3 separate regions of the Homo sapiens genome follow, and regions 2 and 3 are each linked to region 1. Evidence: fine-mapped expression QTL. A gene starts in region 1. Each other region holds a variant in brackets. All regions are shown on one strand. Distances are from middle to middle. Region 1 holds the start of WBP2 (WW domain binding protein 2). Region 2 overlaps FBF1 (Fas binding factor 1). Region 3 overlaps ACOX1 (acyl-CoA oxidase 1).

What was found. PIP is the estimated chance that this variant, and not a neighbour inherited with it, causes the effect. A credible set is the group of variants that fine-mapping cannot tell apart.
Region 2: its variant is the best candidate, but not a certain one, in a credible set for the expression of WBP2 in whole blood (TOPMed, PIP 0.86).
Region 3: its variant is the best candidate, but not a certain one, in a credible set for the expression of WBP2 in whole blood (TOPMed, PIP 0.78).

Annotation. Positions count from the first base shown.
Region 1 is chr17:75,852,953-75,858,278 of GRCh38, forward strand. WBP2 (WW domain binding protein 2) reads right to left here and starts at 2,383. Exons shown (of 8, transcript NM_012478.4): 1 at 2,287-2,383. The coding sequence starts at 2,345. RefSeq lists enhancers at 2,469-2,598, 3,207-4,002 and a silencer at 2,969-3,138.
Region 2 is chr17:75,910,376-75,915,701 of GRCh38, forward strand. It overlaps FBF1 (Fas binding factor 1), which reads right to left. Exons shown (of 30, transcript NM_001319193.2): 24 at 4,642-4,764; 25 at 4,372-4,557; 26 at 3,747-3,923; 27 at 3,538-3,675; 28 at 3,327-3,444; 29 at 1,817-1,932; 30 at 1-431. The coding sequence ends at 348. Among named protein-coding and RNA genes, the nearest start is that of MRPL38, 8.2 kb to the left of the region's middle. RefSeq lists a silencer at 488-648 and an enhancer at 4,553-4,847. The variant C/T (reference allele first, on the strand shown) is at 2,481.
Region 3 is chr17:75,952,531-75,957,856 of GRCh38, forward strand. It overlaps ACOX1 (acyl-CoA oxidase 1), which reads right to left. Exons shown (of 14, transcript NM_004035.7): 4 at 4,929-5,036; 5 at 3,298-3,417; 6 at 3,036-3,151; 7 at 921-1,090. Among named protein-coding and RNA genes, the nearest start is that of FBF1, 14 kb to the left of the region's middle. The variant C/T (reference allele first, on the strand shown) is at 2,202.

The sequences.
Region 1 (5,326 bases):
CATATGTGCATTTTTCTGGGAGGAGAGTCCACAGCTTTCATCATTGTCAAAGGAGTTCACGACTTGAAGAGTAACGTTCACTATTTTAATTATAATTTTTTATTTTTTTGAGACGGAGTTTCACTCTTGTTGCCCAGGCTGCAGTGCAACATAGCGTGATCTCAGCTCACTGCAACCTCCACCTCCTGCGTTCAAGCGATTCTCCTGTCTCAGCCTTCCAAGTAGCTGGGATTACAGGCATGCGCCACCACGCCTGGCTAATTTTTTGTGTTTAGTAGAGACGAGGTTTTACCATGTTGGTCAGGCGGGTTTCAAACTCCTGACCTCAAGTGATCCACCCACCTCAGCCTCCCAAAGTGCTGGGATTACAGGCGTGAGCCACCATGCCCAGCCTAATTATCAAATTTTGGACACTGGACTTAACACTTCAATTGTTATAGATACAACTTTTTCAGACAGCAGGCTGAAGCACTTTCTAAAACAGCAGGCTGAAGGCACACCTTACTTAGCAGGACTGAGCCCTAAGCCAGGTAGAAGGCCGAGCAGGATAGATACATTCTTGTCTCAGAAAGTTCCACAGAGACAGAAAGAAAAACAGTCCCCAGAGATGTTGCCAAATGGCACGAAAAGCTGGCCAGGCCTGGGAACTGACTCACACACAGAGATGCAACAAAACAGTGTGAGGTGTCTCTGATTACATGATAAAAAGGTTCACACGGTTCTGTTTGTCTTCTGCCTCCCCCCATATATCACAACTTTCTCTGACTGGGGAAGGGTAAGTGGGAAACAACTGGTATAAGCAAAGGAAAATGGCTGGGCGCGGTGGCTCACTCCTGTAATCCCAATACTTTGGGAGGCCGAGGAGGGTGGATCACGAGGTCAGGAGTTCGAGACCAGCCTGCCCAACATGGTGAAACCCTATGTCTACTAAAAATACAAAAAATTAGCTGGGTGTAGTGGCGGGTGCCTGTAATGCCAACTACTGGGGAGGCTGAGGCAGGATAATCGCTTGAACCCAGGAGGCGGAGGTTGCAGTGAGCTGAGATCGTGCCACTGCACTCCAGCCTGGGCGACAGAGCAAGCCTCCATCTAAAAAAAAAAAAAAAAAAAAAAAAAAAAGAGAAGAGAAGTACTGCTCAGAGAAAAGAAGGAATTACCAGCAACAGGCTGGGCCCATGAAACTCTGAGCGGGTAAGATAGAGGGAAAGTGAGCATGCTGGGTCACTCTAGGCATTTTCCTCTGACTCATCAAACATTCCCAAGTCACAGGGCAGCTGGATGCTGGCCTTAGCTGGGTACAGGGCTCTGACTCCACGATGTCTCCTTTGGGGACTCAGGTGCCTCCTAAGCTCCTTCTGCCTTCAAGAGGCAATTCAGGGTCGGCATAGTTCAACCCAGGGCTGGCTGGTCTGATTTTCAATACCCAAGGAACAAAAGGAGACAGAGGCCATTTAAGGCTTCTCTTGGCAGAGACTGGAGGAGAGACAGGATGCAATGAGCAAGGGGTGGGGAGGATGGAGTGGAAAGAACCTTGAATTAGGAGAGCTCTGCCTTCCGAGGTGACCCAAACCAACAGGCATTCAAGAGAGAGGCAAGGGAATGACTACGGACCCACACAGTGCCAGGAACTGTTAGACACCTGACAAACGTCATCTGTTTAATTTCACCTCTGGGACCTCAGTTTTTTACCGGGAACCTGAACAGTTCTGGAACATACTGGAAGCCTGTATGCTGGTGGTTAATCCTATTAACTTTGGAGTCAAGACTCCTTTCCTGGAATTACCACCTCTGTTACTTACACAGTTGCGATCTCGGGCAAGTTACTTAACCTTTCTGCCCTCCACTTTCCCTACCTGTGAAATGTGGACAGTAGTAGATTATACTGCACAGAATTTATTAAATAAGGTAGAAAAGGCGCAGAGCCTGACACGTAGTAACGTTGTAGACATCCAATAAGTGACAATTATTTTTGTTTGGGGCTCCTCCCAGCTACTGAAATCACAAGTCTGGGAAGGGGTTCAAGAATCACCCCTAGGCCCCACCGGGGGCCCCATACCAGGTCCCCATGCAGACGTCCCACCCCCGCCTCCCAGCTGATCACAACCTCCCGGGCTCTCCCCCACGGCCCACCCACCTTCCTCCAACCCCGCCCCCAGCCGTTCCCCACCAACCTCACTCCATCAGTGCTCCCTCTTCAGGGGCTTATTCCCCACCACCCACCACCCACCGCCCACTTCCTCGACACCCGAACTTTGGTCCTCCAGGATCCTTCCGCAGTGTTTTCACCTCTCGGTGTTATTGACGATCACTCCGCCGCCCTCCGAGTGATTCTTGTTGAGCGCCATAGTCTCTCCAACAGGGGTCCCGAGACTCAAAACGCAATGAGCTTGCGCCCCTCTTCGCCCCGCCCCTAGTGGCGTCTTCTTATTAGAGTCAGCCAATCAAAGCTCGAGTGCGGAGGCTGGCCCAAACACCTGACCCGAACGTCACGTGGTAATAGTTTACTCCCTCCTTCCAGTTCCTCCTGCGCAACAAACAAGATGAAGACTACAATTCCCAGCAGGCAACGCCCCCGCAGCCTCGGCCTGTCCCTATGCTGGAGGAAGGATGCATTCTGGAACTTGTAGTCTCCTGGATCATAGGCCTGAATTGGTTCCACATTTTGCGTAACCAATCGGCTTGTGCCATCCCCACCCCGCCTCTTCAGCCGGACGGAAATAAACAGTTCCGCTCCTGGCAGGGGCGCGATCTTGGGGACTCCGGCAGCGCGTTAAGGGAAGTCCTGCTGGTCGAATGCGACCTGGACATGGCGTGGGAGCGCCGAGCTGTCCCCTTGTGGATGGGGAGCTTTCGTTCACTCAGCAGACGTTTATGGGGCGCATGCGTGACTCTGGGGCGTTTAGCTGAGCCGGAGGCCCCGGCTCTTGGGGACGCGGTGGGCTGGCGGCGTCGGATCACCCCGCCATCCATCTCACCACTCCCAGCGCTGAGCCCGGGGGGCGGGGAGAGTCCCTCATGGGAAGGGGAGGCCGTGTGCCCCGCCTGGCTCCCACCACGTTCGCAGGCCGGCCGGGCGCCCCTCGCAGCCCCCTCTCCGGCCTCGCGGTGGCGCCGCTCCCCCCTTAGCGCCCAGCGGGGTCCCGGCCGGAAGACTGAAGGCTGAGTGGGACTGGGCACGGCGCGAAACCGGCATCCTGATAACTAGGATTTACAGAATAAGGCTGACTCCTGTCAGCTCGTGACCCAGCCCTGGGCGTCCTCCACGGGGCAGCTGTCATTCCCTAACCGCCCCCCACCAAACCCCTGCACCTCCGAGCTGAATCCGTGAGGCGGAGAGAGGGGGCTGCACTTCCCACGTGGTAGTTCCGGTACTCGTTAATGTTAAGGAATTAGAGTTTGCTTTTCAGTAGACAGCTGCTTTCCTGACTGTGGTGGCCAACCTCTAGATCCACCTGCTTGACTTCGCTTTCCAGGGAGGTCTCCTATGTGAAGAAACAAAGCTGCCTCACTAGAAAAGATCAGGAAACAGCAGCGTTCTGTGAGGTCCTGTGCAATACCAGGTTGGACCTTGCGGGACAAGTACAGTGGGTTAAGGATAGTCATAATGAAATCTGCCCCAATGGTTAGATGTATTTTGGCGCCTGCAATCTCTGCAGTCTTTAAAAAGAATTAAGTCAGACTATGTGCTGATATGGGAAGATCATCAAGGGTTATTAAGCACAGAATGCTGTATACATATAGTTGTATTTGTATAAAAAATAGGATCTAGATAGAAAATTTTTGCAAAGATCCATCAGAAAATGTCTGTGGCATTTTTGAGACATGGGTCTAGGAATTTGGGGTGGATTGGTGACTCGGTATGTCAGTATGCATTGTACTCTTTGGTACTGTTTAATTTTTTTTTCCTATGTGCGTTTAAAATATAAATTTAGGCCGGGCGCGTGGCTCACGCCTGTAATCCCAGCACTCTGGGAGGCCGAGGCGGGCGGATCACGAGGTCAGGAGATCGAGACCATCCTGGCTAACAGAGTGAAACCCCTTATTAAAAATACAAAAAAAAAAAAAAAATTAGCCGGACGTGGTGGCGGGCGGCTGTAGTCCCAGCTACTTGGGAGGCTGAGGCAGGAGAATGGCGTGAACCCGGGAGGCAGAGCTTGCAGTGATCTGAGATTGCGCCACTGCACTCCAGCCTGGGTGACAGAGTGAGACTCCATCTCAAAATAAAATAAAATAAAAATAAATAAATAATATGTAAATTTAAAAAAGAAAAGCAGGCCGGGGTTTGTGGCTCACGCCAAAGGCGTGAGCCAAATTCCAGCACTTTGGGAGGCCAAGGCAGGTGGATCACCTGAGGTCAGGAGTTCAAGACCAGCCTGGCCAACATGGTGAAACTCCATCTCTACTAAAAATACAAAAATTAGCCGGGCATGGTGGCGGGCACCTGTAATCCCAGCTACTCGGGAGGCTGAGGCAGGAGAATCGCTTGAACCTGGGAGGCAGATGTTACAGTGAGCCAAGATCATGCCACTGCATTCCAGCCTAGGCGACAGAGCAAGACTCCATCTCAGAAAAAAGAAAAAGAAAAGCAAAATCCAGGCCTGGTGCCGTGCCTGTAATCCCAGCACTTTGGGAGGCCAAGGTGGGTGGATCACTTGAGGCCAGGAGTTTGAGACCAGCCTGGACTACATGGCAAAATCCCATCTCTATAAAAATACAAAAATTAGGCCGGGCGCGGTGGCTCACACCTGTAATCCCAGCACTTTGGGAGGCCAAGGTCGGCGGATTACCTGAGGTCAGGAGTTCAAGACCAGCTGGCTAACATGGAGAAACCCCGTTTCTACTAAAAAATACCAAAAACTAGCCGGGTGTGGTGTTGTGCGCCTGTAAGCGCCTGTAATCCGCGCGCCTGTAATCCCAACTACTCGGGAGGCTGCGGCAGGAGAATCCCTTGAACCTGGGAGGTGGAGGTTGCAGTGAGCCGAGATCACGCCATTGCACTCCAGCTTGGGCAACAAGAGCAAAACTCCATCCCAAAAAAAAAAAAAAAAACGCAAAAATACAAAAATTAGTTGTGCATGGTGGCGTGGTTCCTGTAATCCCAGCTAATAGGGAGGCTGAGACATGAGAATTGTTTGAACCTGAGAGGCGAAGGTTTCAGTGAGCCAAGATCGTCCCAGTGCACTCCAGCCTGGGCAACAAAGGAAGATTCTGTCTCAAAGAAAAGAAAAAGAAAAAAAGGAAAATCCCCCCAGCAAAGAGCAGGCAGCATTGGCTGCTCTAAGGACCATAAATGGGAAGATGGGGACAACCTGCCCACCCCTCTCCC
Region 2 (5,326 bases), 57 kb after region 1:
CCTGTGGAGCAGGGGGAGCCCACAGAGCCCAGGGGGAGCCCACAGAGCCCAGTGAGAGCTGGGGGTCCTTGCTGCCAACTCAGACCCTCAGATCCAAGCCAATGGCTTTGGGGCAGGGCAGCCAAAGCCATGGTAAGATAGCCTACACCACAGAGCCCCAGAGGCAGGGGCTGCCCCGGGCTGGCACATTTGGAAAGGATGCACTTGCACCCTGTCCACGGAAGAGCTGTCATCAGGCCTCAAGCATCTCAGAATCCTCCCCAGGCACTGCCTCCATGGAGGCAGCCGGAGGAACAGGACAGTTCTGGGGTCCGAACCCTCTGTTGGGGAATCGGCTGGGGTCCCACTCAGGCTGAATGAGATGTCAAATTGTAGGACCCTTTCTTCAGGGTCTCCAGGAAGAACTGTTCATTCTCCAAGAAGTCACGGTCCTGCAAGGCAGGTTTGGATGGGCGGTCACCTTCCCTGAGCTGAGAGGGAGGTGGAGCCCTGGATGCTAGCTGAGCCAGCCGTCACTGAGGCCCCTCCCCACATCGTCCCTGACTCTGCCTGGCTCTGGGAGTCAGCAGGGGCCATGAAAGAGCCCAGGTATGGAGTGAGACAGACCACAGTCTCAATCCTGGCAAGGTTACTTGTTTGCTGTGGAACTTACGAGCACATGACTTCATGTCTCTAAGCCTCAGTTTCCTTGTCTGTAAACATTCCTTGTAGCCCTTCCTTGCAGGGCTGTGTGAGGGTAAAAGCTTAAAAAATACACAAAGCAGGCCAGGCACAGTGGCTCATGCCTGTAATCCTAGCTAATCCGCAGGCCAAGGGGGTAGGATCACTTGAGCCCAGGACTTTGAGACCAGCCGAGGCAACATCGTGAGACCCCATTTCTAAATATAAATAAATAAGTAAAATATAAACAAAGCCTTCGGCATTGAGGTTGGCACACAGGAAATGCTCCATAATGACAACTGTTATCATTATAGTTTTGTTTTGTTTAGTTTGAGACAAGTGCCTTGCTCTGTCACCCAAGCTGAAGTGCAGTGGTGTGAACACACCTGTAGCCTCGACCAGCTGGGCTCAAGCAATCCTCCCACCTCAGCCTCCCAAGTAGCTGGGACTATAGATATGCCCCACCATGCCCAGCTAATTTTTAAATTTTTAATATTTATTTTTTTGAGACAGAGTCTCGCTCTGTTGCCTGGAGTGCAGTGGCACCGTTGTGGCTCACTGCAGCCTCGACCTCCCGGGCTTAAGTGATCCTCTTACCTCAGCCTCCGGAGTAGCTGGGAGTACAGGTGTATGCCACCACGCTCAGCTATTTTTTTGTGGAGACGAGGTCTCACTATGTTGCCCAAGCTGGCCACGAACTCCTGGGCTCAAGTAATCCTCCCACCATAGCCTCCCAAAGTGCTGGGATTACAGGTGTGAGCCACGCACCTGGTCCTCTTTTTTTAGTTTTTCATTTTGTAGAGACGGTGTCTCAACATATTGCCCAGGCTGGTCTCAAACTCCTGGGCTCAAGTGATCCTCCTGCTTCAACCTCCCAAAGTGTTGGGATTACAGGTGTGAGCCACTGTGCCCAGCCTGTTATCATTATTGCTATAGGTTATCATGAGGTTTAACTGAGATGACATATGCAAATTGCTTTGCACAGAACCTGGCCTAGTGTGGAAGTCTGAGCATTGGCTCACTAAGCAAACTGCAGTTTTACTCCCCAGGAGCTGGGGTCACCCCTCCCCAGGGCTACCATGTGCTCCTCCCTGCCTCTGCCCTGAGCTGGAAGGACTCGTGAACACAAGGATCCCCAAGGCCAGGAGAGACTCACCTGCTCTGCCATGTGCCTCAGCAGTGCCAGCCTGGCATGGAGGTGCAAGGGGCTGGGGTCCAGGCCAGTTGGCGGCTGGCTGCACCAACGGGTGGTGGGAGCAGGAGGCATGAGGGCTGAAAAGGCCAAGGAGGAAGTCAGGGACCAAAGTGTTGGTGGAAATACCGGGCGGTCACAGCTTGTTCCTGCAGAGCTGCTCCCCCCGCCAGTGGGTGGACCCTGGCCATATACTCAGGGTGCAATGGCACTAACTCTCAGAAGCCTCTGGCAAATGCATACCTGCTCCTACCTGGAAAGACCATTTATAGGAATTTATTCCAGTGAAATAATCAGGCAAAGGTACAAACACATATGTAGGAAGATGTCCACTGGGTAGTCTTTCTCTTTAAGACAACAAATCACTCAGCACAGAGCAGCCTCACAGTGGAAAACTGTGCTGATTGGGAATTGACTAAATGTTTAATGACTGATCTGAAAACCTGTTCCACGTGTACATTACTGAGTAAAAAAAGTAAAGTTATTGAAAAACACATACAATCCTAATTTTGTTTTTAAAAACATGTACCAGGCTGGGCGCGTTGGCTCATGCCTGTAATCCCAGCACTTTGGGAGGCCAAGGCGGGTGGATCACCTGAGGTCAGGAGTTCAAGACCAGCCCGGCCAA[C/T]ATGGCAAAACCCTATCTCTGCTAAAAATACAGAATTAGCCAGGCATGGTAGCACATGCCTGTAATCGCAGCTACTTGGGAGGCTGAGGTAAGAGAATCGCGTGAACTCAGGAGGTGGAGGTTGCACTAAGCCGAGATCATGCCACTGCACTCCAGCCTGGGTGACAAGAGTGAAACTCCATCTCAAAAAAGAAAAGAAAAAAAAAGTACCAGAGTGGAACATTATGCACCAAAATGTTAAAAGTGAAAAGTGGTTCTCTCAAGACTCAGGAGTGGCGTTGAGGGTGACTTTTTTTTTTTTTTTTTTTTTTTAAACGGAGTCTTGCTCTGTCCCCTAGGCTGGAGTGCAGTGGCACAATCTCGGCTTACTGCAACCTCCACTTCTCGGGTTCGAGTGACTCTCCTGCCTCAGCCTCCTGAGTAGCTGGGATTACGGGCACCTGCCACCACACCCGGCTAATTTTGTATTTTTAGCAGAGACGGGGTTTCATTATGTTGGCCAGGCTGGTCTTGAACTCCTGACCTCAGATGATCCGCCTGCCTCGGCTGCCGAAAGTGCTGAGATTATAGGCGTGAGCCACCACGCCCAGCCTGACAATGACTTTTTTTATTTCCTTTTTTTTTCCTGAGTCCAGAGTTACAAAAAGGTGACATTTTTCATAATAGTGTTCCTCTATTTCTGATTTATCTAAAATTAACACACATTATTTGTGTAAAAAAGAAATAAGGCGACTATAAAACCCAGCTGGCCGCCTTAACTGGAGCGGCTGGAGGAGGGCCTGCCCACTCCTAGCACTGCCCCTGCCCAGTCCTGAGCCGCCGGCCCTTCCTTCTGGAGCCACTCACCACTCTGGCTGGAGGCTGCAGGGCCCTGGGCCCTGGGGAACAGACCCACGAGGCTAGAGGGCAGGTCCTGTCGTGCGCGGTCCAGTTGCAGCCTCTGCTGGGCCAGACTCAGATGCTCCTGTCCCCGTTCCCCCAGAAAGAAGGACTCAGCTGTGAGGTGGGAGGCTGGGGGTGCCGGGGGCAGGGGCGCCATACACTCAGGGAGCCTTGCCTGGTGCATGTGCTGCTCCTGCTTCCGCAGCCGCTCCTGCTGTTGCTGCACCGCCTGCAACCGGGCCTGCTGCTCTGCCTGCACCTGCTGGGCCTCGCGCAATGCCCGCTCCCCCTCCTCGTACTTCTCGGAGGCCACCTGCAGGGAGGCCGCCTGGGTCAGGGCTGCCTGGGCTCAGATGCGCCCACGCCCATGTGCCCGAGCAGCACCTTGCTCATGCTCTCCACCTCCTCGGCGCGGAGCTTGACACGCAGGGCGGTGGCGTTGATCCTCTCCTTCTCCAGCCGCAGCTCCTGCCGCTCCTGCTCCAGGGCTGCTCTCTCCGCTGCCAGCTGCTTCTCCTCGGCCCGGAGCTCGCTGGCCCTGATCTTCAGCTCAGCCTGCTCCTGGAGACAGCGGAGGCCCTGCTGCATTCTCCTCCCAGGAATTGCGCTGCACTCTGTGCAGGACTCTAGGGTCCCCTCTGCCCACCCTGCCCCTGGGAGGAGGTGGTGGAGCCAGGGGCTTCCAGGGAGAGCCAGAGAAGCCTGGGGCCAAGCCGGAGTGCTGCCCTCACAAGCCACGTGACTGTGGCAGGCTCAACTCTGAAGTTCGGTTTCCTCATTTCTAAATGACCAAAGTCATGGGAACATGAGGATCAAATAAAATGTGTATAATGCACCTGGGACAATACGAGGAAGATGTTAGCATGATGATGCGATTACTGTTTTAATCCCTATGCTCTTGTGACATTAGTGCTACACTCTCCTTTCCTAAGACTGGAAGCGGATGTGTCCAGATGGAGGGGCGCAGGCAACCCTGGGCCCTCCACTGTCCGGAGGCTCTGGGCCCTACCTTGGCCAGGCTGATGAGGGTGCCCTCCCGCTGGGTGTCCACCTGCAATGCCCGCTCGGCCTCGCGCTCGGCCCGCTCCTTACTCAGCTTTTGCTGCGCGGAGAACTCCGCCCACTCGGCAGCCAGGCGCCGCCGCTCCTCCCCGCACTTGAGCATGACAGACTTCTGCTCCTCCAGCAAGGCGCTCTGGGATGTGGGGGTGAAGGCACGGGGTGAGTGTCCCTGGGCATAATGGCAGGGGCAGGGGCTGAGTGCGGTGGCTTGACTCACCTTGGCCCGTTCCAGCTCCGCCCTTTCCATGGCCATCTGCTGGGCCGTGACCTTCCTTTGCTCCTCTAGGGCGCGCTGCATGGACTCCGCCTTGGACTGCTCGGCAGTCACCCGCCAGCGTTCCTGTAGGGCCCAGGGCAGGACTGAGAGCGTGGTTCCCGCCCTGAGGATCACGCCTGGCCACTCCCTGAGAAGCTGCATGAACCCACCAGTGTCTCCCACACTATGCCACTGACACGTCCTTCCCAAAGAGGCACAAAATGAGGGGTGCCTGGGAGGCACTGCCAGGGCCCAGCCCGCACGATTCTGCCCAAGAGAAGGACCCAGCAGGTGCCCTCCCAACCCTCAGGTCTCCAACAGCACCAAGGCTAGCAGCTTGGGAGGGCCAAAGAGCAGCAACATCCCTGCCGCTGAATCGCCAGCTACGCACTCTGCCTGTCCTCACCCATCAGCCAAGCAGGCTAAGCACAGGGTGGCTTAATGCTGTGCTGTGGGCCCAGCCACACACAGCACAAGGCGAGAGCTTCACTGTGCCTGACCCCAGGCAGATGCTTAACACAGTTACCAAATGAAGAGGCGAATCAAAATGCTTCACAACATAAAAGCATCTCTATCTACGTTGACATGGCTACAGGATAGATATCAGGTCAGCAGTGGACATCTCTGACTAGTGGGATATTTTTAT
Region 3 (5,326 bases), 100 kb after region 1:
TGATCCACCCGCTTTGGCCTCCCAAAGTGCTGAGATTACAGGCGTGAGCCACTGCGCCTGGCCTTAAAATTTAATTAACTTTTAATTTTTTTGAAAATAGACCAGCCTGGCCAACATGGCGAAATTCCGTCTCTACTAAAAATACAAAAATTAGCTGGGCATGGTGGCGTGCACCTGTAATCCCAGCTACTCAGGAGGCTGAGACAGGAGAATCACTTGAACCCAGGGTGGCAGAGACTGCAGCAAGCTGAGATCGCGCCACTGCACTCCAGTCTGGGCAACAGAGTGAGAATCCATCTCAAAAAAAAAAAAAAAAGAAAAGAAAATAGAGACAGGGTCTCACTATGTTGCTCAAGTTGGCCTCAAACTCCTAGGCTCAAGTAATCTTCTTGCCTTAGCCTCCCAAAGTGCTGGGATTACAGGTGTCAGCTACCACACCTGGCCAGTTTCTTTATTCCTTAGGAGTAAAAAGAGTATCAGGGAGTATCAGTGAAAGGCAGTTGTAGGAATAAACTGTGGCTATGAATGCAAAAGGGAAACAAATTTAATGTCACTTTCACCATGCACAATTTACAGTTGCTAGTAGTAATCAGAACTTTCAAACTGCCTTTAGTGTGTTGAACATTTCACTTATAAAGTTCAAGTAATATTATTACTATTTTTCTTAAAAAGTTAAAAATAATAAGGTGGGTATTCTCTTTTTTTCTTTTTTGGCAGTCACTGATTATAGCAAGGGTGGTTATTTCTGTCTTTCCTCTTAAGAAAAGGAAGCCTAGATATGAAATTACAGGCCCAGTTATCACCCTAGCCAATTTTGCAGTGCTAATGCATCTTCTGTATTGACATTTGGGAATTCTGGGATCTGAATGGGGTAAAAACTAGGCCTTTGGTACTGAGCCCATCTAGGACCCTATCCTTACCCTGGCTTGATTTCAGACTGGTGCCTCACAGCGCTGTATCGGATGGCAATGGTGCACGCCTTAGACAGAGCCCGAGCAGCTTCTCCCACAAGGAAGGACCTGACAAACACCATGGTCCCGTAAGTCAGCTTGTTACTCAGCGGTTTCACGTATGTGCCATCAGGCTTCACCTGGAAGAAGAACGTGGAACTGATACTTCCTTCTTTTAAGCCCAAGAGGCAGTTCAGTGGTTCTCAAAGTGTGGTCCCTGGAATAGCAGCATCAGCATCACCTGGCAACTTGCATGAAATACTACATCTTAGTCCCCACCCTGACCAACTGAATCAGAAACTCCAGGGTAGGGCCTAGCAACCTGGGCTTTAACTGGCCTTCCAGGTGATTCTAACGCATGCAAAAGTTTGAGAATCATTGGTTTAGCAAATCAAAATATGTCCTTCAACCCTGACAACTGTTTCTGATTTCACTGTCGCAGTAAAAGAAGCATCAGAGTGGGCGTGATGGCTCACGCCTGTAATCCCAGCACTTTGGGAGGCCAAGGCAGACAGATCAAGAGGTCAGGAATTCGAGACCAGCCTGACCAACATGGTGAAACCCCATCTCTACTAAAAATACAAAAATTAGCTGCGTGTGGTGGCACGTGCCTGTAATCCCAGCTACTCAGGAGCTGAGACAGGAGAATCGCTTGAACCTGGGAGGCGGAGGTTTCAGTGAGCTGAGATTGCGCCACTGCACTCCAGCCTGGGTGACAGAGCAAGACTCTGTCTCAAAAAAAAAAAAAAACCAAAAAATGCTGGGTGCGGTGGCTCATGCCTGTAATCCTAGCACTTTGGGAGGCCGAGGCAAGAGGGTCCCCTGAGGTCAGGAGTTTGAGACCAGCCTGGCCAACAGGGTGAAACCCCACCTCTACTAAAAATACAAAACAATTAGCTGGGTGTGGTGGCGCATGCCTGTAATCCCAGCTACTTGGGAGGCTGAGGCAGGAGAATCGCTTGAACCCAGGAGGCGGAGGTTGCAGTGAGCCAAGATCACGCCACTGCACTCCAGCATGGGTGACAGAGACTCTCTCTCTCAAAAAAAAAAAAAAGGGGCATCAGAAGGAAAAATGCATTATTAGCTCCTTTTTTTTTTTTTTTTTTTTTGAGACAGAGTCTCGCTGTATTGCCTAGGCTGGAGTGCAGTGGTGTGATCTCGACTTACTGCAACCTCTGCCTCCTGGGTTCAAGCGATTCTCCTGCCTCAGCCTCCTGAGTAGCTGAGATTACAGGCGTGTGCCATCACACC[C/T]GGCTAATCTTTGTATTTTTAGTAGAGACAGGTTTTCACCATATTGGTCAGGCTGGTCTTGAATTCCTGACCTTATGATCCATCCTCCTTGGCCTCCCAAAGTGCTGGGACTACAGGCATGAGCCACCGCGCCCAGCCTTATTCCCTCCTTTTATGAGACGGAGTCTCACTCTGTTGCCAAGCTGGAGTGCAGTGTCATGATCTCTGCTCACTGCAACCTCCGCCTCCCGGGTTCAAGCTATTCTCCTGCCTCAGCCTCCTGAGTAGCTGGGACTACAGGTGCGCACCACCACGCCCAGCTAATTTTTTGGTATTTTTAGTAGAGATGGGGTTTCACCATGTTGGCCAGGATGGTCTCCATCTCTTGACCTCATGATCTTCCCGCCTCAGCCTCCCAAAAGTGCTGGAATTACAGGTGTGAGCCACTGCGCCCAGCCTCCTTTTTTTTTTTGAGACAAGGTCTCACTGTCATCTAGGCTGGAGTACGGTGGCATAATCACAGCTCACTGTAGCCTCGGCCTCCCAGGCTCAAGTGATCCTCCCACCCCAGTCTCCCAAGTAGCTGGGACTACACACGTGTGCCACCATACCCAGCTAGATTTTTTTACTTTTTGTAGAGATGGGTTCTCACTATGTTGCCCAGACTGATCTTGAGCTCCTGGGCTCAAGTCATCCACGCACTCAGCCTCCCAAAGTGCTGGGATAACAGGAATATGCCAGTGTGCCCTGCTGTTATTACCTTCTAAAAGAACAGACCATTCTAACCCTATTGTGAGTAACAGCCACTCAACTCCACTGTTTGATGCCTCTGCTTTATTTTCTATCAAAACATACCTGGGCATACTTCATCAGCATGTTTTCTCTGGGAATACGATGGTTGTCCATTTTGAGGTAGCCATTGTCTATCTCATCATAACCAAATTTGGGGCCGATGTCACCAACGGTAATTCCTACCACAGATGAAAGGACAGTCACGAGATGTTTATGCTCTGGAATTTCTGGCTTTTGCTCCGCCTCTTCAGTTGGGCATTCTACCTTTTGCAGAAGAAAGTGCTCAGTTTCATTTTCATCTCAACATCAGATGAACAGTTCTTACCTGGCAAAGGCTTATGGGTCCCGATTTCACGAATAGGTACGATAAAGGCATGTAATCCATAGCATTTCCCCTTAGTGATGAGCTGGGCAAGAACTATTGCATGATTTGAAGTCTTTCCAACTGTAATATCAAAGAGAACAAGGGAGGGGTGGGCAAACGTTCATACATTTTTAAAGGGTAGAAAAAAGAAGAAAGAATATGTTAAATCTAACACTAGACTAAACCAATAGTATGTGTCCAGAAAGCCTTTCTGCTGACAGCATCACACCTAGCTTTCAGAAAGAAATTCCCTTAAGCTAATAGTTATTACTTTCTTTTCTACTTATTTCTCATACATTTACGTAGAGAAAATTTTAGGATAAAAATAAGAATATTAATTTAAACTACTTCCTTGTTATCCCTTAAGGCAGTGCTGTCCAAAACAGTAATCACTAGCTACATGTGGCTTCTTACATATAAATTATAAATAAATAAAATATATAATGTGAATAACAAAATCCTTCAACCACTAACTGTATTGGAAATATATATTCCAAGATAATAACTCAGAATGGAATAAGAAGATATAAAAGTTTCGGGTCAGCCGGGCACGGTGGCTCGCGCCTGTAATTCCAGCACTTTGGGAGGCCGAGGCGGGCAGACCAGAGGTCAGGAGTTTGAGACCAGCCTGGCCAACATGATGAAATCCCATCTCTACTAAAAATACAAAAATTAGTTGGGTGTGGTGGCACGCTCCTGTAGTCCCAGCTACTCAGGAGGCTGAGGCAGGAGAATCGCTTGAACCCAGAAGGTGGAGGTTGCAGTGAGCGGAGATCACACCACTGTACTCCAACCTGGGTGACACAGTGAGACTCCATCTCAAAAAAAAAAAAAAGTTTGTGTTAAAACTATTTAAATTTTTTTCTTTTTTTTTTTTAAGAGACAGGGTTTCACTCTGTCACCCAGGCTGGAGTGCAGTGGCATGATCACAGATAGTAGCTCACTGCAGGCTTGAACTCTTGGGCTCAAGTGGTCCTCCCACCTCAGCCTCCTGAGTAGCCAGGACTATAGGTCTATAGGTATGTGCCGCTATGCCTGGCTTTCCTCTCTCTCTCTCTCTCTCTCTCTCTCTCTCTCTCTCTCTCTCTCTCTCTCTCTCTCTCTCTATATATATATATATATATATATATATATATATATATACACACACACACCTCTCTCTGTCTATATACACACACACACACCCCTCTATGTACACACACCACACACACATATATTTGTTTGTTGGGTTGTTTTTGAGACAAAGTCTTGCTGTGATGCCCAGGCTGGAGTGCAATGGTGCAATCTTGGCTCATTGCAACCTTCCCGGGTTCAAGTGATTCTCCTGCCTCAGCCTCCCAAGTAGCTGGGACTACAGGTGTGCGCCACCACACCCGGCTAATTTTTGTATTTTTAGTAGAGATGGGGTTTCAGCATATTAACCAGGCTGGTCTTGAATTCCTGACCTCAAGTGATCTGCCCACCTCAGCCTCCCAAAGTGTTAGGATTTCACCACCAAGTCTGGCCGACATTATCATAAAAGCTCTACATTCTAAGCAAAATCTCATGACAAACCTTCAAAACATCCAATAAATGCTGAAAAATTCACTTACGCCCACCAGGCCACCATTTAATGGAGGTCACAGTAGGACTGTTGAGAATGAACTCCTGGGTTTCAGGGTCATACGTGGCTGTGGTTTCCAAGCCTCGAAGGTGAGTTCCTAAGGAGATAAATTACATTGACTTCAGTTAAGAGATGGGGAAAAAAATAGGCACAAGGAAAAATTTCCTGCACAGTCCTTTAAACTCTCATATCTCAGAGAAAAACAAAATCTAACAAAAAACACCTGTAGATGAGCTACAACTGGTTGATAACCAAGACACTGAATTTCCCACACTATCTGATGGTTTCCTATTAAGTTGAAAATCTAAGTGTCATGCATGTTCCATTTCTGTATTTGATTTGTTACATTTATTTACAGCAACTGAAAGAAAATATAAAGGCAACTTA